5 separate regions of the Homo sapiens genome follow, and regions 1, 2, 3 and 5 are each linked to region 4. The links come from fine-mapping of genetic effects on gene expression. A gene starts in region 4. Each other region holds a variant in brackets. All regions are shown on one strand. Distances are from middle to middle. Region 1 overlaps PCCA (propionyl-CoA carboxylase subunit alpha). Region 2 overlaps PCCA (propionyl-CoA carboxylase subunit alpha). Region 3 overlaps PCCA (propionyl-CoA carboxylase subunit alpha). Region 4 holds the start of PCCA (propionyl-CoA carboxylase subunit alpha). Region 5 holds the start of PCCA-AS1 (PCCA antisense RNA 1).

The links. PIP is the estimated chance that this variant, and not a neighbour inherited with it, causes the effect.
Region 1: its variant is fine-mapped to the expression of PCCA in lung (TOPMed, PIP above 0.99).
Region 2: its variant is fine-mapped to the expression of PCCA in whole blood (TOPMed, PIP 0.94).
Region 3: its variant is fine-mapped to the expression of PCCA in monocytes (Quach 2016, PIP 0.95).
Region 5: its variant is fine-mapped to the expression of PCCA in whole blood (TOPMed, PIP 0.96).

Annotation. Positions count from the first base shown.
Region 1 is chr13:100,526,098-100,531,188 of GRCh38, forward strand. PCCA (propionyl-CoA carboxylase subunit alpha) reads left to right here. Exons shown (of 24, transcript NM_000282.4): 23 at 1,578-1,655; 24 at 4,001-4,338. The coding sequence ends at 4,069. GGACT (gamma-glutamylamine cyclotransferase) reads right to left here. Exons shown (of 3, transcript NM_001195087.2): 3 at 4,083-5,091. Among named protein-coding and RNA genes, the nearest start is that of PCCA-AS1, 48 kb to the left of the region's middle. RefSeq lists an enhancer at 4,272-5,091. The variant G/A (reference allele first, on the strand shown) is at 3,177.
Region 2 is chr13:100,176,208-100,181,312 of GRCh38, forward strand. The region is part of intron 6 of PCCA (propionyl-CoA carboxylase subunit alpha); the gene reads left to right. Among named protein-coding and RNA genes, the nearest start is that of PCCA, 90 kb to the left of the region's middle. The variant A/T (reference allele first, on the strand shown) is at 3,178.
Region 3 is chr13:100,126,851-100,131,955 of GRCh38, forward strand. The region is part of intron 4 of PCCA (propionyl-CoA carboxylase subunit alpha); the gene reads left to right. Among named protein-coding and RNA genes, the nearest start is that of PCCA, 40 kb to the left of the region's middle. RefSeq lists enhancers at 2,236-2,736, 2,737-3,237. The variant A/G (reference allele first, on the strand shown) is at 2,544.
Region 4 is chr13:100,086,081-100,091,185 of GRCh38, forward strand. PCCA (propionyl-CoA carboxylase subunit alpha) reads left to right here and starts at 3,013. Exons shown (of 24, transcript NM_000282.4): 1 at 3,013-3,145. The coding sequence starts at 3,041. It overlaps PCCA-DT (PCCA divergent transcript), which reads right to left and starts at 2,863. Exons shown (of 2, transcript NR_132422.1): 1 at 2,553-2,863; 2 at 1-647. RefSeq lists enhancers at 2,543-2,592, 2,623-2,882 and a silencer at 3,163-3,342.
Region 5 is chr13:100,480,428-100,485,532 of GRCh38, forward strand. The region is part of intron 21 of PCCA (propionyl-CoA carboxylase subunit alpha); the gene reads left to right. It overlaps PCCA-AS1 (PCCA antisense RNA 1), which reads right to left and starts at 588. Exons shown (of 5, transcript NR_047686.1): 1 at 553-588. It overlaps LOC107984574 (a long non-coding RNA gene), which reads right to left and starts at 780. Exons shown (of 3, transcript XR_007063850.1): 1 at 693-780; 2 at 1-3. The variant T/C (reference allele first, on the strand shown) is at 3,061.

The DNA.
Region 1 (5,091 bases), 440 kb after region 4:
CTGGACCTGCTCCTGGATTCCCTGGTCTTTGCCTGCCTTTGAAGAGAGAAAAAAGGCTGTAAAATGCCAACTGGAGGGAGTGACTGTTCTGACACCCCTGATGGGGGCCTCTGCATTGTCTCTGCGCTGCCCCTCCCATCCCCCTGCAAACAGCCCTCGAGGCTGATTCTTCGCTCTCCCTGGAATGCAGATGCCACGTGAAAATGAATCAAAAAGGGCAGCGCGGGCAGCGCTTCCAGGCCCAGCTCCTCAGCGCGGTGTCTCTCCTCCGTGCCAGCGCCAAAGCCTTGGCATCGTCTCTCTTCCTATATTTCTATGCCAGGAAGAAGCAGCCCACCACCTGAACAGCAGAGGAAAAGAGTACATCGGCTCAGGCGCTCCAGAGTGCCAGCAAGACAGCTTGCGCCACACGGGGGGGCCAGAGGGGGACTTGGAGATCATCTGGGGATTTCAGGAAAGAACATTCTCTAGGCGCTTCTGAGGCATTGGACGAATATGGCCACAGTGGTGTGAGGGGCCAGGAGCCCCATGCCAGGACACCCACCCACACCACATAGCCATTGCCCTAGGAACCTGGACTTGCCCGTTTCAAAGACTGGGAGGCCAAAGAAAAACCTGGCCGGCTCAGGACGCTGACCCATCGGGGCAGAGCGAAGTGAGTGCGCAGCATGGTTTTCAGCTGCAGCTCACTCCTGCAGGGAAGCCTCACGCTTAACGCCAGTGGGCTTAACCCAGCTCAGCCTGGCTGCCCCTCAGGATGAAAGGCAAGTTCTGAACGCAGTCTGAGCAAAGGCCCGTGGGCGCTCCCAGTCTCCTAGCATGGAATGCATGTAGCTCTGGAAGTCATTCCTGTGTCTGGAGGGTTTTCCGGAAGCTGCCTTGTGCCTTGTTGTGGGTACTCGCTGTGTCTTGCAGAGGATGGGACAGTGGTCCTCGTGGCGCCAGGGCCGAGCTGTTCCCAGTTCCCCGGGACTATAGACAGAAATATGTATATTTGGTGGTGGTTTTTTTTTTTTGGTAACAGCTATACTGAGATGTAATTCACATACAATTTAGCCCTTTAACGTGTACGATTCGGTGGTTTCAGTCAATTCAGAGTTGTGTAGTTGTCACCACAATCAATTTTGGAACATTTTTATCACTCTCAAAAGAAACCCTGTACCCTTCAGCAGTGACTCCCCTTCCCTCTTCAACCCCAGGCAACCTCGAGTCTGTCTGTAGAGATCTGCCTATTCTGGACATTTCAGGTAAGTGGAAAACATTCCAATTTCCGAACACCTCTGTTAGTGGCAGAGCCAGACTCAGAGATCCCCAGGGTAGGCCCCGCCGCCAGGGTCCCCACTTCTCCAGGGTCAGGGATTTTTTTTTTTTCCAACGAGGACTTTATGAGAGAGAGAATGGCTTTTCTCTACTGTTCCTAAAGATGAGCTTGGAATAGGAAACATTAGAGATTGTTGCTGCTGTTCATAGACACATATTTTGGGGCATTTGACAAAGAATTTCTTAATGGCTTCATTCCTAAGTGTTAATGCAAAATTAGAATGCTTTTAAAACTTCTGCCCATTTTTGTTTTCCAGGTAGCAGAAGGTCAAGAAATTTGTGTGATTGAAGCCATGAAAATGCAGAATAGTATGACAGCTGGGAAAACTGGCACGGTGAGTCCCTAAGTCCCCATCAGCCCAGGCCGGCCCTGTGATGGAGGAACGCCCACCTTTGAATCGTGGGTGGTTTGGCTGGAAAGGGCCACAGAGGCGCCCTCTCCCCCTCGCTTCTACAGAGGAGGACGTTAGGATTGGGAGCTTTTGCCATTCTGCCCTGATGCATCCCTGCCTCGTAGAGAGCGTGGCTTCCAAAAAGTCTGTGCTTTATGTTCAGGTAGTCAAAGAACAATTGTTCTTCACCTTAATGTCTTTCTTTCAAATTAAGGGGTCTTTAATTTTTAATGTTTACATCTGTCTTGAAGGCAGTTAGTTATCTGAGACTTAGGTGACACAGCAGCAAATGGTTTTACAAATTGCAAAAATTAATGTAACTCTTCAAGACAATTTCTCTACAAAGGGAACAATTCAGTTGCAGATCAAGAGAAGCCAAAACCCCATGTACATGTGGGACTTAATTATTTAGGGAGAAAAAAATATTAGTACTGAAATTCATTCATAGTGAAACTTAAGTGTATTTTTTTCTTGAAGATAGAAAAGTCCTTTTAAGCAGTAACTTCATTATTCTTCCTGTGACTAAAAAGACTGAAAAGATGCCGTTAGTAGGTAAATGATCCTTTTGTGAGGGCCGTTGTGGTTTGGAAGTGTCTGCATGGGAGAGCATGATGGGAAGCGCAAGGCTGGCCGTGTTCTGCATGTGGCCATGCCTTGGGGACATCAGGTGCAAAGAGAGATCCATCAGTTCATAACCAGGTTTGCATCAGAGAGACACACAACCTCTGTCTCATGCTCTGTCACTGCAGAAGGCAATGAAATGGATTCTCAGAGAAGGGGCAGCGGGGATGTCATGCCTGGTCCCGGCTGGGAGAACAGAGGCCCAGGTGTATGCCAGGGGCTCCTGAGCCCAGCCCGCCGGTCTGGAGGGGTGTGGACAGTTGCACTGTGCTGGTATGGTGTGAAGAGTAGAATGACATGATTTGTGGCGTTTTTAAGGAATTCTTTCTAAATTACTTCTTTAAAAAGTGAACAAGAAAATGTTGGTTTCTGTTCATGTAAAAATTTTATCTGTTCTTTGGGATTTAACATTTGTGCTGCCCTAGTATCACGACATCCATCCATGATGAGAACTTGGCCTAGGTGTGGGGGACCGAGAACGTGTGTCCGCCGCATGCCAAGGGCCCTGTGCGGCAGGTCTGAGGTGCTAATGCAGAAATGACCTTGGCCTCATCAGTTCCCTGAAGGGGCATGGTGCCATGTGGTAGTAGGTTTCCTGTCCTCGTGGCCTGGGTCTCCCTCGGCCCTCCTAGTTGGAGTCTTCCTGTGCATTCTGTTCACCTCACCCCATCCCCAGGCCTCTCAGTTCCAACCCAGCCAAGAAGAGCAGAAGTGGCCCGAAGCCCCCGTGCAAAGTAGCAGGCCCTGGTTCCTACCTGCGAGGCCACTTTTCCTCCCAGAGAAAAAAAGTTCACAAAGGAAACAGATCCTCTACTCTGGTCATCGCTGCATCACTAACACTGC[G/A]TCCTCTAGTAGGGCTGCTAAATGGAGGCAGGAGCATTGTGGAAAGCAGCCTTTTCAGTCCAAGCAGCATCTGCAGTGGCCGATGAGTTCTAATCCATTTTTCATTTTCAGGCCCAAGCAAGAGCCTCCAAGAAGTCAAATGACTGTCTCTTCCCCACCTCAAGCCCCTCCTTGCTAATTTTAAGTCAGAACACAAATTTCGGAAAGCAAAACTTGATAAAGATTGACTGAAACCGGTAGGACAAAAAGGCACAGTTCCACCCACCCATGGTGCTGGAAAGGGCGACCGCACAGCCCCACCTGCCAAGGACTCCATTTCCCTTCAGAAAATGGAGGTCAGGCCAGGGAGGTCCTCCTCTTACTCAGCAGCTGATCTGACTGTCGTGTGTTTTGTTCCTTTTTTTCTTTTACACTAAGTATTCCATTAATTCTCAGAGAACATTTCCACAACCTCAAAACCACAGAGAGGGAGGCTAGGGGTTAGAACTCACCTGGCAGTGAAGAGCCTGCCTAGACCTGAGGGTGCCAGAGCGCAGGCCACAGCGCAAATGCTCCGGAGAGTAGCCCTCAGGCCAGCCACTGTGAGGGTGCCGAGGACAGAGGAGACGGGAAAGGGGAGGAGTGAGCCACGGCCACGGCCACCATGGCGCCTCCCTGTTCACCAGGGTCCCTTCGATGGGCTCCGGTGGGGTGGGGTGGCTTGTCCCTGTGCTGCTGAGCTTGCAGGACTGTGCATTTTTAGAAATGGATTAGGAGCCTGCCGCCTCTTGGTTCTGGTTACTAATTCTTACTCTCCCCTCCCCCTGCATTTTTCAAAATTCAAGGTGAAATCTGTGCACTGTCAAGCTGGAGACACAGTTGGAGAAGGGGATCTGCTCGTGGAGCTGGAATGAAGGATTTATAACCTTTCAGTCATCACCCAATTTAATTAGCCATTTGCATGATGCTTTCACACACAATTGATTCAAGCATTATACAGGAACACCCCTGTGCAGCTACGTTTACGTCGTCATTTATTCCACAGAGTCAAGACCAATATTCTGCCAAAAAATCACCAATGGAAATTTTCATTGATATAAATACTTGTACATATGATTTGTACTTCTGCTGTGAGATTCCCTAGTGTCAAAATTAAATCAATAAAACTGAGCATTTGTCTAAATATTAGTTTGCCCTTTCTTTGAATGAAGACAATGTACACATAGGCGACAGGCTCTGCCAGTAGACTACCAGCATTTCTTTGTGATCCTTTTAAGAGATTGATATAAATGTCAGTCAGTTCTCTGCCTTGCTTTATTAAATTAGCACTTGCCATTTTTTCATCTGATTGCCTTACTACTTCTAGAAGTGAGGCCCTCACTCCTGGTGCTGATTTTCAAAACTTCCTAAGGACCAGAGACTGCAAATGCAGATTTTGGCAATCCCTTTCCTGCTGTGTCTCTATGTGGGTGTACTGTTGGTGGCTGACTCCCCTGGAGGTCACCCTGAAGCTTCCTGGTTGGCCGGGGGTGCTGTCTCCACTGTTTTTGTTTGTTTTGAGGATGAGCGCGCTGCCTGGTCCCTTCCCCATTGCACAAGCCAGGGCAGTCACAAGGAGCTTGGGCTGCCTCACCGCCCTCATCAAGCACAGGGCCGCCACGAGCTCATCAGCTGAGACCCAGCGTAGCCTTTTTGTGTTTTTTGTGAAGCAAGTTTCCAATTAAGCAAAAGAAGCTAAAAATAATGATCATGTTTTTGTGCCAGATGCAGTTAGCGATCACAGTCTGCCATTAAGTTGAAGAGTAAGTGAGCTCTCCCAACAGAGAATGAGGTTACTAAAGATCACAGCAGCTGCATTTTCATTTGGTTCTGAAATCCTTGGAATACATTTCAGACTTTGCTGGGAAGCAGAAGCAAGAGCCGTGCACCGAGTTGA
Region 2 (5,105 bases), 90 kb after region 4:
TGTTGTTGGGGATAGAGACAGGACTCTGAAATTGTGGTGTTTGGGAAAATCCAGAAATTTTCTTTTTGTAGAAAAACTTCATATATTAAAATGAAGCATTTTTGGAACTTGGGATTTGATTACAAGTTACTTCATGCATAGATGGTGTAGCTTTAGAAAACTCAGGCCTAGCTGTTTTTAGAAGAAAATGTTATAATTCTTTATACATTTTAAGTTTAATTATTTACATGTGTATAAAAATTTGGGTTTATTGCAAGAAGGTACGTTTTGATATTGCTGTTTCTGTGTGTTTGTATGATACATCTACCCATGTATCTGTCTACTTATTTATCTTTGTGGTGCTAGTCAAAACTTGCAGCTTAAGAGAATTTGTTCAGAATTGGTGGTTAGAATCAAAAGTGAGTGAATTTATGACTTACATTATTGAAAAACATTGACAAATGTCAGGACTCAAGTCCGATTTTTATTATTTTACTGTAAATCCAGTTAGATGTGATTTAGCACTTGGATCATTTAAATATAAAGGCATGTTAGTCACAGTTTAAGTCTTTATATTAGTTTTTTTAATTAGGTAGAGTTTTAACAGAGGAGCAACATGGAAAATGTTTATGTGTATGAGGATAAAAATGCAAGTCTTGAGAATATTAGTTTAGTAATGTTCTGATTAGTGTTTGTAGCCTTTGTAAAAAATGTAAATTTACCTTCTAGATGACTACTTGAAACTGTTGTTTTTGGATGCTTGCCAGATAAAAGCCCTGTGGGATTAAGTTCTGGTAAATCGCTTGCAAATTTGTGAGGGATATCAGTGACTTTGAGTGTTTAACTGTCCAAGCTGTCATCTACATGCGTCCTATCACTGCATTGGGTGAAAAAATTAAGTTTCTCAGCCAGTTAGAATTAAAGGTGACATCTGCTTTTAATTGGTGTTTTATTTTCTTCCAAGTCAGTAAAAATTCAGTAAGACATGAATTATCAAATTTTGCAATGCTAAGCAACTTGTCAAGTGACAGTAAGCACTACCTTGAGCAGTTGTACAGATGGGAAGTGTTAAAATGTTGATTAATCTTCCAGAGTTCTGATTATGAGAAGACTAAAGCTTATATCATCATTGCCAGCTTTCTAGTGTCAGAGTAGTATTTATTTGTTAATTTTGTAGACCTTTTTCAATTACTGACAAATTGTGTCTTGCATAATGAAAATTTTACTAGTTTTAATAAGACTTGGTCTATTAGACTAAGGGTCATAGATGGCAATGTAGAATTCATGTTTCTGTTGTCTATTATTTAGTAAACATATTAGATTCTTTTTAGTAAAAAACTGAAAAAAATCTAAACGTGAGCTTTAAGTTTTATTCTGTTATACACATTCATCCTGTGTTGAGAAGGGAGTATCTGTTTGAATCTTGGCAAAGGAAGTCTTGCCTGGGCCCCCTGTTGAAAAAGAAAATGGATTATTTCTGTTTTTACCATTTATAAAACATTTTAAGATGTAAAACATAAGGACGAAAAAAATCATCACCTTCAAGTAGTCCATGTAAAAATAACTCAAGTCTTCAAACATTCTCAGAACTAAAAAAGACCAAAGAAAATATTCCCATCATACTGATTATGTTTCAATTTTCTAGTTACTAAAAATTAGAACATGGCACTAAGTAGACTATATAAAGTATGTCTTTAAAAATTCAACTGTGAAGGAGATCTTTTTTTTTTGATAATCATTAATATGAAAGTGAAGTTTCTCTTTTCCCTGTTATAACAGTTCTATGTAGTAGTAGAGGTAGAATTCTGAATTGAAGGTGGTTAGGACTTATAGCAACATTTCTGGGATGAGTTTTTCAGTATTCCCAGACTTCAATTTAATTCAGGGTTTCTTTTTTGCTCTCCACTTATGAATATGTGATAAATATTTTATGTAGTCGTGTACTTTTGCTATAGAAAATCAGTGGATTATTTAATTTGATTCAGGAAATCTACCCTGTATGGTTATTTCGATGTTGGGTAGATTTTATTTCAACTTAAAACGTAGAAAAGATGCTTAGGCAAATGATCTAATAGTTTTAGATACATTTGGTAACTTGTATCTTAAACCCCAGGGCCAAGTTTAGCAGTCTTACACATGTTTAGAAAATAGTTGAAAAATAGAAAATTTAGGTCTTTTTAGGTAAACTATACAAAACACTTTTATAGTCATTTTGATGCCTGATAACTTCAGGGTTCATTGCCCCTGTACATTTTTCAAATTATTTGCTTCTCAATCCATAAGGCTTTAATTTACCCCCTACTGACAAATCCCAAATGGGTTTTTAAGAATTTTGAGAGTGGTCTGCTGTAGTTGTGCTTCAGCACTGGCTTCAATTGCTGACACAGAATCTCTTAAGATGCACCAAATTTAGAAGGATAGGAGGTTCAGGCAGCATTTCCTCTGGCAAATACTAAGATTTTATTTGCGGAGGGTGGGGACGGAGATACAGAATTACTGTTTTCTGTAATATTTTTCTTTCTTTGATCCTGTTTTAATGCCTGTTTATTAAAAAAAAATAATTTAGACACAAGATTTAGCCACATTTTTTTAATTAATTAAAATGTGTGGGCCGGGCGCGGTGGCTCATGCCTGTAATCCCAGCACTTTGGGAGGCTGAGGCGGGCGGATCACAAGGTCAGGAGATCGAGACCATCTTGGCTAACACTGTGAAACCCCATCTCTACTAAAAATACAAAATATTAGCTGGGCGTGGTGGCAGGCGCCTGTAATCCCAGCTACTCGGGAGGCTGAGGCAGGAGAATGGCATGAACCCGGGAGGTGGAGCTTGCAGTGAGCCGAGATCGTGCCACTGCACTCCAGCCTGGGTGACAGAGCGAGACTCCTTCTCAAAAAAAAAAAAAAAATATATATATATATATATTTGTGCTTGTTTGGATGGGCTTTTTTAATCTTGAATTTTATAGAATAATAAAGTTAAGTATTTGTACCTTGACATACCCTAACACAATTAAGTATTGCTTCCATAAATAATTTTGATCTTATAATAAACATACCTTACATACTGACGAATAATATTAACACAAATGTATACTCCCTTAGAGGTGCTCAAAATGACTTTCATGCCACCCTTCATGCCTGCTGGGTTTTAAGGCATAAGAGAAACAGATGATTTCTGCATTTTACTGGAAAAAAAAG[A/T]CTAAAATGTACAGCTAGTATTGAATTGGGGTAATAATCTGCCACTTTTTTGCCCTTCAATGCTGTCGTGATCTTTTAGGGAAGTGAGGTCATGGTAGACCCGCTTGTTAATCATTTCTGCGTTTTCAGCTCAGTTTGGTCATGAATACTTGACTTGCTACCTATAGTCTTGCTTCTGTTTGCCTCTTTGCATGCAGCTCCTTAAATTGTTTAAATTACCATGCTTTCTTTATCATGTGATCCTGTCATCTATTGACAATTGATTGGATCAAGGATTAGTGCCTGACCCAAGGCAGACATCTACAGAAGGGTCATCCTCTTCCCACAATGGTTTATTTTCCTGTCTGTGTGTGTGTGTGTTTGTGTGTGTGTGTACGTGTGTGTGTGGTGGTCATGAATGGTGGTGGTGCCAAGAAGGTTGTGACATTTGACTAATAACTGATGATGAGAGAAGCAGCCAGCACTTGGAGATCTAGAGTAAGAGCTCTCCAGGCAGAGGGAATAGCAGGTTTAAATGTTCTGAGGCTGGAATGAGATTTGAGACATAGAATATAGAGATTGGATATAGAGAAAGGAACTGGTGTGGCAGGAGAATCATGAATGAGAAAACACGTGGTACAAGATGAGGTTGAAAGGGTAGGTGGCTCAGGGCAGATCAGTTAGGGTCATTCTAAGAAGCTGGGATTTAGGTCTGAGTGCATTGGGGAGCTGCTGGAGGAGTTTTAAGCATGTGGTGCACTTCTGTATCACTTCTGACCTAATGTGATGCACTTCTGTATCACTGTAACAACAGTGCATATCAGACTGAAGAACTATGTGATTAAGAACACTTTGCTACATAGGAGCAGAAAAATTTAAAGAAGAAACAGTGCCCTAGAAGAAGTTAAATTCTCTTGGGCATCCACCTGTAGACGTCCTCACTCCTTAATTTGTCCTGCTGTTCTTAGCATCATAGCTCTCTGTGAAAACAAAGCTATCTTCTAATTTATACTTTGCAAATCATTTGCTTTTCCGTAAACCCCATTCTTGCCTATTGGGGTTAATCTAATACCAAGATCCAAGATTCCTCTTCCCACAATGGTTTATTTTCCTCAGGCTGGATTATTCAGTATTGAAAAACAGCCCCATAAGACAACCCATGGGAACCATTGACCATTCAGGTCCTAAGAACAGTTAGAGTTAGGGGGTAGGTGTGGATACAGAGGTTGTATGTATGTGGTATTCCAGTTTAAGGTGGCCACTCTCTTCTGATTTCTTTCTCCTCTGATTTTGTCTCCTCCGATTTCTTTCCCCTGGTATTAATTACTAATACGCTTCTTTGACTTTCTGTCTGGCTAGTAGGTGAGGTTACGTTGCACAAATGCTTAAATGAATGCATGTATATTGGCATCCTTGTATATGGGCTTATGTTTGCACACAAATACTCAAATTCCAGTGAAGTTTGCTTTGCCAACATCCTTTCCACCACAGGTGATTTGTGGAAGCCAGTCAGGATCATTTTATCTTCCCTGACAATTATTGATTCAGGGATTAATCAAGGCTTAAGCCATTGTGGGCCACTGAAACATGATGAAAGGCTTTCCTGGGATTCCTGGAAAAGGAACCTCCTTATTCTTAAGAGAAAGACATTGGAAGCCAGGTTCTCTTGCATTCTCCCCCACCCACCACCTTGTGAATGAGAGAGCTTAGTTGCTGCTGGCAGCCATATTGTGACCATGAGGGTAGCTAGCCTGAGGGTAAAGCTGACTTACAGAATAAGGCAGATCTGAGAGAATGGCAGAGAAATCCAGAATTGGGAGATATATTTTTGGAAGAATTTCTGTCTAAAAGTGTTGGTGGGGTATGTGTTATGGCAAGAAGAGAGCTGGGATGTTTAATGGGTTAACAGCATTTTGTTCTTTATCATATATTTATTGAAAAATTTTCCT
Region 3 (5,105 bases), 41 kb after region 4:
GACTTTCATGTATTAACTTAATTAAAGCAGTGTTATGGGTAATACTCAGTGTTAACCTGTGGATGGCTGTTATTGAAATCCATTATCAATGGAGTCAGTATTAGTGGTCAGCAGCATCAGAAGTAAAACTTGCAACCAAGACCCTCCCATGGGTGCTGTGAGCTCAGCAGGTTAAATTGTCAAAAACCAGTAAAGCTTCTTAAAGGACTGATAGCTTAAGCCACCCGGAGTTAAAGGTAAACTAGTCATTCCAGTCAAGATGGACTATGACTTTATTTAGCAGTCAGGCAAAAATTATATTTGGGCAGGATTTATATCAGTATCTTCATGTATGACTTATTCATTTGTATGTTCATGTACCTTGCTATTTAAATTCAATAAAACCATCCAGCTTTTTTTAATCTGTGGGAAGTGACTTGTGGATATTTTCTTTTATAAAACGTTAAGGAGATGTCTTAAGACTTTCTGAATTTTTTGTTAATAACTTATACTGAAGTTACTTTTTACTTATACTAAAATTTTAAATTAAGAAAAAAGTGAAATATTGTATTAATATATCTTTTTGGTTTTGTTTATTTTATAATTTCTGGTAAACTTAAACAACATGGTTTTAAAGGGAATTTATGTATTTCAGTGTAATTAGTACCTGCTGTTATGAAAAAGCACCTAATCATGGATTTATTTTTCTCTAAGCAGCTATTTGGGAAGGATCAGAAGTCCTATCTTACTGAAAAAGCATACATATAATAAAAGATTTGAGGGCCGGGCGTGGTGGCTCACGCCCGTAATCCCAGCACTTTGGGAGGCCGAGGCAGGCGGATCATGAGGTCAGGAGATCGAGACCATCCTGGCTAACACAGTGAAACCCCGTCTCTACTAAAAATACAAAAAGTTAGCCGGGCGTGGTGGTGGGTGCGTGTAGTCCCAGCTTCTCGGGAGGCTGAGGCAGGAGAATGGCGTGAACCTGAGAAGCAGAGCTTGCACTGAGCCGAGATCGCGCCACTGCACTTCAGCCTGGGCGACAGAGCTAGACTCCGTCTCAAAAAACAAAAAACAAAAAAAAAGATTTGATATACAGTTTACCTTATTCTATGTTCCAGTGTTTCTAAGGCCATGACTTAACTCATTTTTACAGCCTCCCTCATTCAGACTCCTTAGTGGAGGGAAAGGACATGATTATTCCAAATAATGCCTCTCACTCATTCAGAATCTATGGTGTACTGGAAAAGCACATAATTACATAAGGATTGAATTACTGTTACTGTTTTAAATTGAGAAAATTGGGGCTTCAAGTATAAAGCCAATCTTCGGGTTGCCAAAGATCACTGGGCTAGTAAGTAGTGGAGCTGAGATTCAAATTATGTGTAACTTCTAAGTTGTACTGTTTCCACTGTGCATGTTGCTTCTCATACTAAGTATGAGGAAAAGTCCCCTCCCACCACAAAACGAAGTGAAGTTTATTACTTTGAAGGCAGAGTTTTTATTAGTGCCTGTTGGAGGCTGGGTACTATGATAGGTACTGGAACTAGAAGAGTGACTGGAAGTGATAGGATTGCTGCTTTAGAGATGGGTATAGAGAAATAAAACATAAATAATTACAAATTGTGATAAGTGTTATGAGGGAAACAAGTTGTTGAGAGAGAATCATGGTTCCCTTCAGTAATAGGGTGCTCAGGGAAAGTCTTGCTGAGGGGTAAAATGTAAGCTGAGAATGATGGATGAGAAGGAGTCAGCCAGCTAGGCAGACAAGACCGCGTGCGCAAAGGCTCTGAGTCACCCCAGTCTGCTTCTGTCCTCAGTACTCTACTATAGAGTTCTTGCTAGTGTGACCACCAGTTTTCTCATGTTAAGTCCAGTGGACATTTTTCAGTCCTCTTCTGTTTGACTTCCCAGAATCTTTTAACACTATTACCCTTTTTCAGACACTCTCATCCTCTGGCTTTGGTGCCATTTTAATCTCCTAGTTTTCTCTCTACTTCTGTGGCCCTCCTCTGTGTCCCCTCTACAGGAATCACTCAAGGTTTGATTGGTGGGCTCTTCTTAAAATTGTTTTATTTTTTGTACTTTCTCTACCCTTACCCTGAAAGATGGCATTCTCTTCCACTTCTGTTTCTGTGGTTTTAATCAACCCTAGACTCCAACTCTGTTTTCTCTCTCTCTGTGACGTCTCTAGTTGAATGTTTTACCACTACCTCAAACCCAGCATTACCCAAACTGAACTTTGATCCTTCGGGCTTCTTGTATCTGAATCCTCCTGCAGAAGCACAAGATGTAGGAATTTATGTTCACCATCATTCTTTCTTTCATTTCTCATTTCCAATTTATGAGCAAGTCCTTTTCATAAATAATTTTGGAATCTAGTCACCTATCTTCACTTCGTTATTGCTTCTTTAGCAAGGTCTTTTAAAATCTTCTAGTGAATCTTTTAATCTTTTAGACTGATAAAATTAATTTCATCTGGGGCAGTTTATCTAATGTGAACTGTTTCAGTTTCTGAAGTTTTGTTTGATAGCGAATGCTTTCTTACTCTGTTTTGGAATTTT[A/G]GTTCATAGGCTCTTTTTTCTGGTGAAAGTTAAAAATGTTTATTGCTCTTCATGCTTCATCTTCTCCCTTCCCTTTGCTTCCTTGACCTTCCTCTTCCTCTCTCTTTCCTAGTTTCTCTCTCACCCCGGCCATTGCTGCCTCCCACCTTCTCCCTGACCAGTAGTTTTGTGGGTGCCCCCCCGCCGGCATTTTGGATTCCTAATCTACATCCAGGTCTTATGGTGATAGTTTGGACACATGGCAGATTAGTCCCAGCAGCTTGTTCAGATTTTGACCCTGAAGCTGTGGTTCTGCCTCCCTAGGTCCACAGTCTCCAGGAGTTGTAGTGAGCTGTAGTTGCAGACAATACTTGGTGGCCTCCTCTTCAGGCCAAGGGCAGTTCCTCTTTGGCCTGGTCTTCACCAGTGGCTCTGGCTCTCTTCTCAGTCTTGTGAGAACATTCTCGCCATCTGTACTTTGCATTTGGCACTTCCTGCTTCTGAGGAACCAGCCAGTGGTTAGCATTGTTATGCGTTTTTCTCCTGTTTTGAGTTTGTGAAATGTTTACCATTTATTTCTGCTTACCTGTTTTCTTAGTTTTCCTTTCTGGGTTTTATTGTCATTGTTGTACATTTGAAGTAGAGAGAGCTTTTGAAATATGAACTCACTGTGCCATCCTTTTTTTGTGCTAAATTTATTGAAGTCCACAAAAACCAGAGAAAAATGTCAGATCTCAAAATTGTGTTTTTGCTCAATTTCAAGCATCAATTTATCCAAGTTACCCACTTGATACCTGACTTGCCCTACTTAGCAAGTCGAGGCATTGTTTTGCTGGCTCTGGCACTCTGGCTATAGCCAGTCACTCACCCCACTTGGGATTGCTTCCTTTGCTGCTTGTTCCTGCTGCTGCTCAGTGGCAGCTGCCAAGTTGGAGTAGCAAAGGGAAAAGTTTAGTAGGCATCTTTTAGGAAGACAGAATGCTGTCTGGAGATGGCAGTGGTGGATTTATATCTGAGTCATTCATCTGAATTGGAACCTGTACAAAGGAAAAGAGGTTCTAGCTCAGATAAATAGATATAAATTCATTGTTGCTATCTTCAGGCATTCATTTATTTAATTAGATGCACTGAAAAGCACTCTCGAGGTGTGGGGACAGGGTGTGGTGTATCCAATGGAGAGTTTGTAGAAATTGTTAAGTTGAGGTACAACTGCTTATAAATAGTATTTGAAAATGTCTTATTTTGTAAACAACTGAGTATTTAGTTGATTGCAAATCTTCCTGTAAATCAATGATAGATTAGTTTAGTTTCCGGGTCTATAGTATATTCCTCAAATGGATAGTAGGTATTTTTGTAAAGGGGACTTTATAATTAAATATAGCAAAGTGTCTTCCGTGGACTGTATTAATTAAATGTTACAGATCCCCAGGCTGCACTGATGAAACTCAGCTGGGATGCTCTACATGTGATAGGGAAATTTGGTTTCAAAATTACACAACCTATTTGTGAAGGTTTCGTGTAATTTTTCTTTTCAGTAAGAAGTGTTTCCATGTATCAGTTTTTTTACATTTAAAAAAGTAATTTATTTTCAATTGTGGTAAAGTATACATAACATAAAAGTTTACCATTTTAACCATTTGTTATCAAAAGATGATGAGATCTGTGGAGGAAAAAATGGAGAGCTTTATTTTCTATAGAAAAAACTTGCAGACTGGGGAGGCATAGTTTTCACTAGTGAAAATGTTGCTCTAAAGAGAAAAAAAAAGGGGCTTGGCTTAAGTAGGGAAAGTTCTTGCCCTCATTCTCTGTGAGGTCTGTGCAAACGAAGGATTCAAGCTTGTTCGGTTCAGATTGAACCCTAATCTGGTGCCAGAAGTGTCTCTGTCAGATGTTCCTTCGAAAGGCTGGTGCAGGGGAGGTTTCTGCTGCAATTCTTCTTGGCCCCAGTCACAGGAACTGTTCTGGCTTAAGAACAGTTCTTAATCAAGAGCCGTGATTTCCAAGAACGAAGGGTGGTGACCACTCTTCTCTCACTCTGCTATGGCCGCTTGGACCCATTGTCTAAATGTGGGTATATTAGCCACAGGGAGTGCATCTCATCTGGAGAGCTTGCAGTTTTATTTACAATTTTATTTCACACATTTTTAAGCATACAGTTCAGTAACATTAAGCACATTCACATTGTTTTGCAGGATGAAAAGTTCTGGAAACGGGTGGTGGCGATGGTTTCGCATTATCAATTTTTACCTAGTATGCTTTTTTTTATACAGTGTTTTAAAGTGTTGGAAAAAACTTATGCCTTTACAGTATTTTATTATATTAGCTTATGTTCATTGTATGGGGTTGTAGGCAGTGACAGATACTCAACCTTTAACAAATACCGTTGAGCACTTGTTATGTGAAGATGCTCCACATCTTTTGAACTAGGCAGTTGTGGTTCCTGCACTCTTGTGGCTTCCAGTTCAGTGGAAGAAGCAGACATTTTATAATTACATACATTTATGACATTAGTGTAATGAAAAATTATAGGGTGTTTTGTAAGTGTGGAACAGGAGGATCTGAACCAGCCTGGGGAGTCAGGGA
Region 4 (5,105 bases):
GGATAGTGAGAAGGATCTGCTCTCCTTTGCTACTGGAGACCCAGGCTGCTTCTGTGTAGTGCCTAGAAAAGTCTCAGCAGCTGAGAGGTGAAAAGGTGTGGAGGATTGCATGGAAGGTTTTATAAGCCAAGCCCAGGGGCTGTTGAATTTCATGTCCTCTCATATTTTATTGGCCAGAAATCAGGTATAGTACCACATCGAACTGGAAAGGAGGCCAGGATATGCTGCCCAATAGGATGCTCCGAGCAGTGCACTCAGAAGAATGAACAGGTTTGGAGACAGTCCAAGTCTGCTGTGTCCTCAACTTCCTTGGGGGTATTTTCCTTACAATCTATAACTTTTTTTTTTTTTTTTTTGAGATGGAGTCTTGGTCTGTCGCCCAGGCTGGAGTGCAATGGTGCAGTCTCAGCTCACTGAAACCTCTGCCTCCCGGGTTCAAGTGATTCTCCTGCCTCAGCCTACCGAGTAGCTGGGATTACAGGGGCCTACCACCATGCCTGGCTAATGTTTGTATTTTTAGTAGAGATGGGGCTTCACCATGTTGGCCATGCTGGTCTCGAAGTGCTGACCTCGTGATCTGTCCGCCTCGGCCTCCCAAAGTGCTGGGATTATAGGCGTGAGCCACTGCTCCCGGCCACAATCTACAACTTCAAATGGAAAAGGCAAAGATAAATATTAGTCCTCTATCAGTAAGGACACACATGTAGCTGCTGTAACAAAGGCAAAACAAAAAAACACAATGCAATAACTTAAACAAGATACAGTATTTTTCTTGCTTGCATAAAAATCTGAACAAAGCACTCCAGGGTTGACGTGGCGGCTCCACAGAATCAGGCACTAAAGGCTCCTGGTATATTGTTTTGTCTCCCCGATCACCTAACTTCCTTCTTATCATCTGAGATGACAACTTTACCTCCACTGTAGTGTCCACATTCTGGCAAACTGGAAAGAGGAGAAGGGCAAGTGGAAAGCAAGCCTTTCCCTTTAAAGGTATAACCCAAAAGTTGTCTATGTCACTTGTGCTTATGTCCCATTGGCCAAAACTTAGTAACCAAATCTTGGTAAGCACCCTTGCTGCAGTGGGAGTTGGGAAATGTAGATCTTTGTTTAGGTAAGAAAGAAGAGGGCATGGAGGGCACAGTCCTTACATTCCAGACCTTAGTCATGGCGCTACACCTCGTTGTAAGGGAGGCTAGCTATTGCAGCCTTTCGCTGGGTGGCCATGTACCCAGCTAGATCTCAGGGGCACTCTTACTAAAGTAATGCATGGAGAATGGATAGCATGAGAAGCAGTTTCTGCTACAAGTGCCTTTCATAAAAAGAACTCCTATAAGAAAAACAAACAGGGCCTAAGGAAAACTAATCCAAAGGGTAAAACATGGGGAAAAGACAAAAAACAAAAGAAAAAAGAAAAGCAAGTTTCCCAGGTAGAAAATGAATGAAGACTGAGGTACATAAGTGAGAAGTCCTGTAAAATTGATAATCCTTTTCATTTTGTCACAAAAGTCCCTACTTACATTCTAAAATTCCATTAAATGTCACCTTTCTGATATCCCCATTTTATTTCTCTCTCTTTGGGCATTTACCATGCTGTAGTGTACTCTAGGCCATTCCTAGCTTTGTAACTCTCTCAAGGTGACTCTGCAGGAGATGCAAAGTAGTTAAGAGGAGAACCCCCAATACTGATGTGTTTATAGGTGAGGTGGTCTGATGTCTTAGATTTGCTTTAAAATATTCCTGCACAAAATAAAAAGGGGAATAGATGAAACAAGATTGACAAAATGTTGATTCATTGACGCGGTGTAATGGGTATCTGGGTGATCATAGTACAATTTTATCTCTTTTGTATATATTTTAAAATTTCCATAATATAGCAAAACATGAGCCCAGTCCCTCAAGGCAGCCAGATTTGGGTTCAAACCCTAGTTTGACCTTTTACTCGCTGAGTGACTTTACCCTGCTACAGCTTCAGTTTCTCCAAATGGAAATAATATATACTCCATTAAGGTTCTTGTAAACTCTCAAGTAAGAGGGAATCTGAGGCTCTAGCACACGGCCCGGCCCTTAATAGTTGTACTAATTTTTATTTTATTTTTCGAAACGGAGTTTGCTCTGTCACCCAGGCTGGAGTGTAGTGGCATGATCCGGCTCACTGCAACCTCCACCTCCAGGGTTCAAGCAATTCTCCTGCCTCAGCCTCCTCCCGAGTAACTGGGATTACAGGAGTGCGCCACCACGCCCAGCTAATTTTTGTATTTTTTAGTAGAGACGGGGTTTCGGCATGTTGTCCAGGCTGGTCTCCAACTCCTGACCTCAGGTTATCCTCCCGCCTCGGCCTCCCAGAGTGCTGGGATTACAGGCGTGAGCCACTGCGCCTGGCCAGTAGTTGTACTAACAAGGGTTTCTGCTTGCGAGCAACAAAGACTGACTCTAGTTGTGGCTAATTTCTTTCACACACACATATTAAGTGCCAGAGGTAGGACTTGAGCTCGGATCTCTGATTTCCAGACCTAGAACTTTTTATGTGTTATTACAGTCGTTAAAAACCTTACCTGGATTTGTGCTTTGCAATTTACGCTTTCGAACATGCAGGAATGTAGTTTGGGCATTTGTCTGGAACTTCGGATTCTCGGGACTCCAGGGTGGCCAAGGCGCGGAGGTGACTCAATGACATTGACCGGCCTGGATGCACGTGGGTTGCTGAGCCGATGCTGGGAAGGTACGGGGTTTGCCCGGTGCAGGCCGCCGGAACTCACGCACGCCCCTGTCTCTCTCACTCCTGGGGTCGGCTCTGGCCGGTGGCCTCCAGCTCAGCTAGCGGCCGGACGCGCAGCCCGCCGACTAGCCCTCCAGGTCCTAGCGCGACTCCCGGATCCCGGATCCGGCGGATCTGGCCGACCACTCACCCTCCCCTTTCCGCAAGTTAGGGGGCGGGGCATCGGGTTTCTGGCTCGTGATTTGCCGGAGCTCCTGCGCTCCCCTTCTCCACCCCCTCCGGCTGTGTGAGAGGTCAGCAGAGGGGCGGTCTGCGGGGACAACAATGGCGGGGTTCTGGGTCGGGACAGCACCGCTGGTCGCTGCCGGACGGCGTGGGCGGTGGCCGCCGCAGCAGCTGATGCTGAGCGCGGCGCTGCGGACCCTGAAGGTGAGGAGCAACGGGGCCTCGCGGGTCCGGGCTTCACTGGGCTTCTAGCCGTGCCGCCTCTGGGCGGCTGGCGCCGGGAGAGCGCTGGCTGGGTCCGGCTGCCCCCGCGCCCCGGTTCCGCATCAGCTACACCGCTTGCTTTCCTCCCTCCCGGAGTTCGCGTGGCAGCGGGCTCAGGAGGCATCCCTCGTTGCAGCTGTTCCTCGCGGGGATCCTGCGGAGCAGAGAGGCCTAGGGCAGAGGCAGTTGGGTGCCCGCACGCCCTCCGAGGCGGCTGATGGCTTTGGGCAGGCATATTGCTCGAGGTCTGCTTCCAGGGCCCCGCGGCATTGGCTTTGTCTTAAGCTTTCCAGGGTGTCTTTTTAGGTGTCCTTATAGTTTCCGTGTTCTGTTGCCTCTTTCCAGCATTTTTGAAGGGACACTGTGAACTGTTGCTTAAGTAGTGTTAGGGTTGTGAGTTTGTCTTATCTTTTAAAGTATTATACCATGTCAGGACTGCCAATAGATTTTACGTTTCATTTGAAAGCCTGTTTTAATTGTATGACACCCCAGTCTACTGTGTACCAAATGCATCCCGTGAACTTACTTTCCTTTTCGGTATAGTGGTGAGCCTGATTTTGGCACTGTTCTAAACACATTTCATGACTGTTCTGTATACCTAGGCTGTCATGATGGCAGATTGACAAACAGGTTGGAGTGCTTGTGTGTGCTTCTGAGCTCTGTCTCCAGTCAATGTCGAGTCTGTCGTTAATTCTGGGGCACAGACCACCTAACCTACTTTATAAGGTTTGTTGAGGCACTTGAACACATTCTTTAAAATGAAGGTCCCCTGAAAACCATCTGTCAGCTGGTTCAGTGTGCTTGTTAAACTTCCTTTTAAAAAATAATTATTAAAACATTGCCACATAACTTGATTTATAGTCATTTAATTTTAGACGTTGAAGACACTTTAGAGACGACCTGCCCCATCCTACTCTTTAAAGAGGAGGGAACCGAGCCCCAGGTGGGCAGTATGAGAGCTGGAGCTTATCGACATGGAAGTGAGTGGCACCTATGTTTGTTTTGTGTCCAATTCAGCGTGCGGACTTTCACTGTTTTCTGTGTTCCCATACAGTTTAGTGTTCTTTAATCTTTATCATTCTGTTCATCTGTGTTGGCCACTTCAATTGCAGCTGTAAGACTTATGCATTTACATAGGAGGCAAGTTAGTATGGTGTAAAGTGTGGGCTTTGGGGTCAGGCGCATGAGGCTTTGTATATTGGACAGGTCTCTTCCTTGGGCGTCAGCTTCGTCCTTGTAGCTATTTTTTTCAACAAATATTTACTGAATATCTCCTGTCTTCCACTTCTGGGGAATGAATATGGTTTCTGCTTTCTTAGAAATTTTACTCTAGTAGGGAGACTGTAACAAGTGTAAAATGGTATTAGGGGAGATGCCCGGGTGCTATAAGAAAATAAAATAGAGGGATTTGACCAAGCCAAGATTTTGAATTCTGTGTTCTAGATACTGTTCTGTTGCTTTGCTTGAACTAATTTATTCAATCTCACAACAGTCGTATGTCCCCCATTTACAGAAGATGAAAGTGAGGCACTGAGTGTTAATGTGACTTGCTCGAAGCTATAGTGCCAATAAGTGGCAAACAGGATTTAGAACTCCAGAACCTGTGCTCTTAATCATACTATGCTATCTACGGTAAGGGAGTGTTTTCCTTTGGAACTGAAAATTGAGACAAGTTTTGAAGGATGAAGTGACCTTTTCTAACAAACAGAGATGAATGTTATAGGTGAGAGAGCAGTGTATGCAAAGGTCCTGTGGCCAGAGGGAATGACAGGTTAGAAGAACTGAAAAAAGCCTACAGAGGCTCTGATGCAGAGAGTAGATGGTGTTGGGGAAGCTGGCAGGAGTCAGACCATCTGGCTCTTATAGATCACATTATGAGGTTTGGTGTTTGTCTTAGAGC
Region 5 (5,105 bases), 390 kb after region 4:
ACCCTTGTAATTAAAGCATTACACTTTGCAAAGGCTGACAGTGGTATAGGGGCTGTCTGAAACTATTCAGCCATAGCCTGGTCTCTGCTTTCTTTTTACAAATGGGAGGTTGGCTAAGGCAGACACAGGGATGGCTAAGAGGGATAAAGGACGTGACTTCCATAGAACCTTTTGTTCCTAGAGGAACCTCTCCATGAAACACACAGTGAAACTAGATTAAACCAAAAAACGCCCTCAGCTCCAGCAGATCCTGAGCTACAAAGCACCTCTTCCCTACCGAGCCTTCTCACCCATGCGCACTGAGTTTCTGAGTATCAGAAAGTCAGGTTTCTGAATCCCTAGAGAAAGTAAAAATTTCCTTGGACACAATGGGTTTTCTTTGCTTCCTGCATGACAGTCACGAAGGGGAATCTGAAATAGAGAACTTGAATATGCGGCTTGCTGAAGGGAAGTGTACTGTACAGTAGCCCCCCTTCTCCACGGGGGATCCATGTCAAAATCCCCAGGGGATGCCTAAGACTGCGGATGGGACCGAACCCTGTATACGCTTGCCTTTAATGCCTTTTCCATTTCAGCTCGGCACTTAGCCCACACTGTGGCTGTAACTTTTGTAGTTTTAGGTACAGCAGCAAAACTAGCACAAATTTCTTTGTCCTTTTTCACAATTTCATGGATAGAAGATTGATTCTTACTGTAGATCTTAGCAATCTCAGCATACTTTTTTTTTTCTTGAGAACTTTCACCTTTTAACTAAAGGAAGGACTTCATGGCTGGTTTTTGGCATATCCAGATTGCCAGCATCATACTCTTGGAACTTTGAGGCCATTGTGAAGTCAAATAATAGTTCCTGCCAGGCACAGTGGCTCACACCTGTAATCCCAGCATTTTGGGAGTCCAAGGCAGGTGGATCACTTGAGCTCGGGAGTTTGAGACTAGCCTGGGCAACATGGCAAAACTCTGCCTCTACAAAAAACACAAAAATTCACCGGTCACGGTGGCACATACCTGTAGTCCCAGCTACTCGGCAGGCTGAGGTGGGAGCATGGCTTAAGCCCAGGAGGTGGAGGTTACAGCGAGCCAAGATCATGCCACTGCACTCCAGCCTGGGCGACAGAGCCAGCCTCTGTCTCAAAAATAAAAAAGGAACCTAAGCACTGAGACCCCCTGACAGTAGATCTGGTAACTGAGATGGCCACTAAGTGACTGGTTGGTGGTGGGGGTGTCTACAGCGTGGAGATGCTGGACCCCGAGAGAGAGGGTTTATGACCCAGGCAGGATGGAGCAGGACAGCACAAGATCTCCTCACACTACTCAGAATGACTCACAATTTAAAACTTATACATTGTTTATTTCTGGAATTTTCCATATAATGTTTCTGGACCATGGTTGACCACAGGTAAATGAAACCTTGGAAAGCTAAAACCTTGGATAAGGGGGGACTACTGTAATATAAAGTTTACAGTTCCTGGGGTGAAAGCTCAGGCAGACCCTATCTATGCATTATTACAACGTACCATCAATTCAAAACCATAAATTTGCAGAAACATCGTTGCTTTAATTCCTAAAATATTGAATATGAATAATAAAAATAATATATGCTTTGTCTTAGAAGCACCTTTTTAATATGATTGATGTGTATTGATCTGTTTCTTCATTCTAACATGAACATTTCTGTAACAGTCATTTCCCCTGAAATATCTAACCTGTGGGTACCTGAGACAGCTTGTCAGTTAGGAAGAACAGTGGTGGCGATAGCCACGTAGGGCTGGTTTGGTCGTGAGTGCAAGTGTGGTTGCAGCAGCTAGAGCAGAGGACTGTGTGGAGAACATGGGTCAGGTCAGAAGGCAGTAGCCAGGAGGGATGCAGAGTCGAGAGAGAATTTGTTGATTGGAATGACTCAGGTTGACTTTCAGGATGAAGAGAAGGGGCCAATAGAGAGGGAAGAGAGGACAGTTGATGAGGCAGGCTCCAAGAGAGGAGGGCAAAGCGAGATCAGGGGCTCCAGTGAAATGCCTGAGTGTGATGAGAAGAGCGCTGTCTTGTGAGGCTAGAGAGGGAACCAAGGATGGGTGGGCCTGGGAAGGCTGGAGAGGTAGCCTGTCAGGGAGCTGCTAACCCACTTAGAAATACTCTTATTGACATAACAAGGTTTTTTGTTTTGGTTTTTTGTTTGTTTGTTTTGAGAGAGCGTTCGCTCGTTCCCCAAGCTGAAATGCAATGGTGCAGTCTCAGCTCACTGAAACCTCCACCTCCTGGGTTCAAGCGATTCTCCTGCCTCAGCCTCCCGAGTTGCTGGGATTACAGGTGCATGCCACGGGTGCAGTGGCTCACGCCTGTAATCCCAGCACTTTGGGAGGTCGGGGCGGGCGGATCATTTGAGGTCAGGAGTTCAAGACCAGCCTGGCTAACATGGATATAACAAAATTTTCTATTTCAAAAGTTCAGTCGTGGGCACAAGTTGATTTTGCCTTACAGTCTTGATAGTGAAGGTGCATACTATTTTTAAAGCTGTATTCCTTAGATACTACCATATTATCTAATGTTTCTAATAATGGAATTAGCAAAAAATGACTACATCATCCAAATTTGACTTTGTACTAACATACTTGGCGTACTCCATATCCCTGAAGGTTAACAAGAGATAAATTTGGCCTAGACTGGTCTTTTCCTGAATTCATCACTTAAAAAAGGAAAAAAAGAATGGGGAGGAAAAGCCACGTTTTACTTTTATAATTTTTATTCCATCATTAAAAGTACAACTTGCTTTATGATCTGAAGAAATACCATCTAAGTCTTTCTATTAGGAACAAAAGTGAGCCTTTCAGGGAAAAAAAAAAAAGGAGCTGGGCTTAATCTGCATTAGCCCTTTGATGTATTCCCAGATTTTAAAAAGCTTCCCACTGTTCTCAGCCACGTTGAAACAGACCCAGCCATGTGTCCGGCGCTGTCCTTTTCTCCTCTCAGCACACACTTAGCCGGAGACACCTTTTGGCCAATGGGCCAGGATTCTTCCATTGCATCTTCAGCATGTGACCGTTTGTGCTGGCTCATTGGGAGTTC[T/C]GCTGCTCAGTACTCCTTCCCCAGGCAAAGACTCTTAAGTTAATAATTGGTTCAGAAGAATAAACTATACCGCCCTCTTGGTCTTCTTTTGGACATTTCTTTAAGATGAGGCTCTTACTGGTATATCTGGGGTACTTTATTGAGAAATAGAAAGTGCTAGCTGAAATAAGGCGTATCAGTCTAGAGTTAGGAAGTGAGAAATGCAATCGGTAAATTTTGCTTTTAAATAAAAATGGAAGCCCCATTTTAATTGTTGCCATTTCTAGTCATTTTATCATTTTTAACAGCCTGGTTTTCTATTTTAGAGAAGTTGCTGACCAATATTTAGAGAGCACCTCCCTAATCTGCACATCCTCTTGTGTGTGATGGTGAAGTGATGGGTTGGAATCGTTTTTAATGCTGTTTCCATTGATGGGACATTATTACCAGAAGGAGTGCTTTGTGCCAGCTGGTTTCATGGATGGAGGAAAACAATCTGGGTTTCAGTTTCACAAATAGAAAAACAAAACCTGAGAGGAAAAGGAAGTAATTCGTTAGCAGTGGCCACTGTGCAGAGTAGGATAACCTGCCTTCAAAGATTTTTGTTTCATGCACTATAATATAATGTTTAATAAATACTTTACTTCAAAGAACCTCACTACAAGAAAACTGGCCGCTTTCCTGCTATTCTTGTTCTCCGGCTCAGTATGACTATAAGTAGCTCATATCCGGTCCTCTGTGGTCTCAGGTGGTCGTTTGTGTTTATGATCCTTAAGCTGAAACTGTAAGGACTGTGTCCCTATTTTAAGTCTTTAGCAGATCCACCGTGTTCTGCAGGAATTGACAGAGGCTCTCGTGAAACCCTTGACACTTTGACCCATCTTGAGGAAAATGCTTAGATGCTAAAAGCAGTGTGCATAGGGATTACGTCCTCCAAAAATAGAAAACTCTAAATTTACTAAGCAGGGAGTAGAGAAACTCATCAGACTGCACCTCAAGTTTTTGATGTGTTCTGGTCGCCTCTGCACTCCCATTCTAGACTTCTAAACAACACGTTCAGGATCTCTGAGATAAAAGCTGGACTGAAGTTACAGAAAGAGCATTAGAGATGTTTGAATTTTTCTTTTTTCCCCCCTGTAGATATATTTGGCATATGTAGAATTTGAGAGTCCACTATTGATACCAGTTTCTTCCAGATATTAACACATATCAAATAGACAGCTAGAACTCAGAAGAAACTAATGGAGCTCTGAAAGAAACCATTGTTTTTTCCACTATAAATCTTAACTCAACAGCATTTAGGGTCTGGGTGGAGCCAGTCACCTGGGCAGCTGCTTCACACCCATTTTGAATTAGCTGCCCAGTGCTTCTGGTGAGCACCTCGGTAGGAGCCACTGCTGTGAACTCTTTTGCAAGTTCTGGTGGTGACTGGTTTGGTTTTTATTGCTCCCTGTTTGATGCACTGATAGGACCTAGGGCTGTTCTTAGAAATATAGGCCTGAGACGACTTAAATTTCACACTGGTTTTGTCTTCCGTTTCCACATTCCTCTCACTGACTCTCCCTCCCTTCCTGCCCTCTCTCTCTCTCTCATATGAAATGAGTTTAAAATCAGAGGGGAAGGATTGCTTTAATATTTAGCAGTCTAAACAGAGGGGGACAGGGCTGAAGAGGAGGAAGGGAGTGAATGGGTGTAGAAGAGAAAAGCTGTTCCCACCCCATTGCTTTAATGACAGTGGAAAGGGTGCATGGATTGGGCCTGTGTTTCTCTATCAGCTACTTTGTTCTTTAAAGCACTGGCTAGCTAAGCCATCTCTTTCTCTCCCATATTTTGCCTCTTTGAGTGTTTGCCTAGAACCACTTAGCTGTGGCAGCCCTGCTGATGGGGCAAGGTGCTCTGCAAGTTTCTAGGCAAGGTTTCTGGATCCATGTTGAAATTGAACGCAGATAGCACAACCATATTATAACAGCTACTTACAAACCAGTCAGCACATGTGTGGTGAGCATTTCTAGAGTTGAGTTATTGCTTAGGTCAATTGTAAGAGGAGTTTCTCTGAAAGAGTTCTG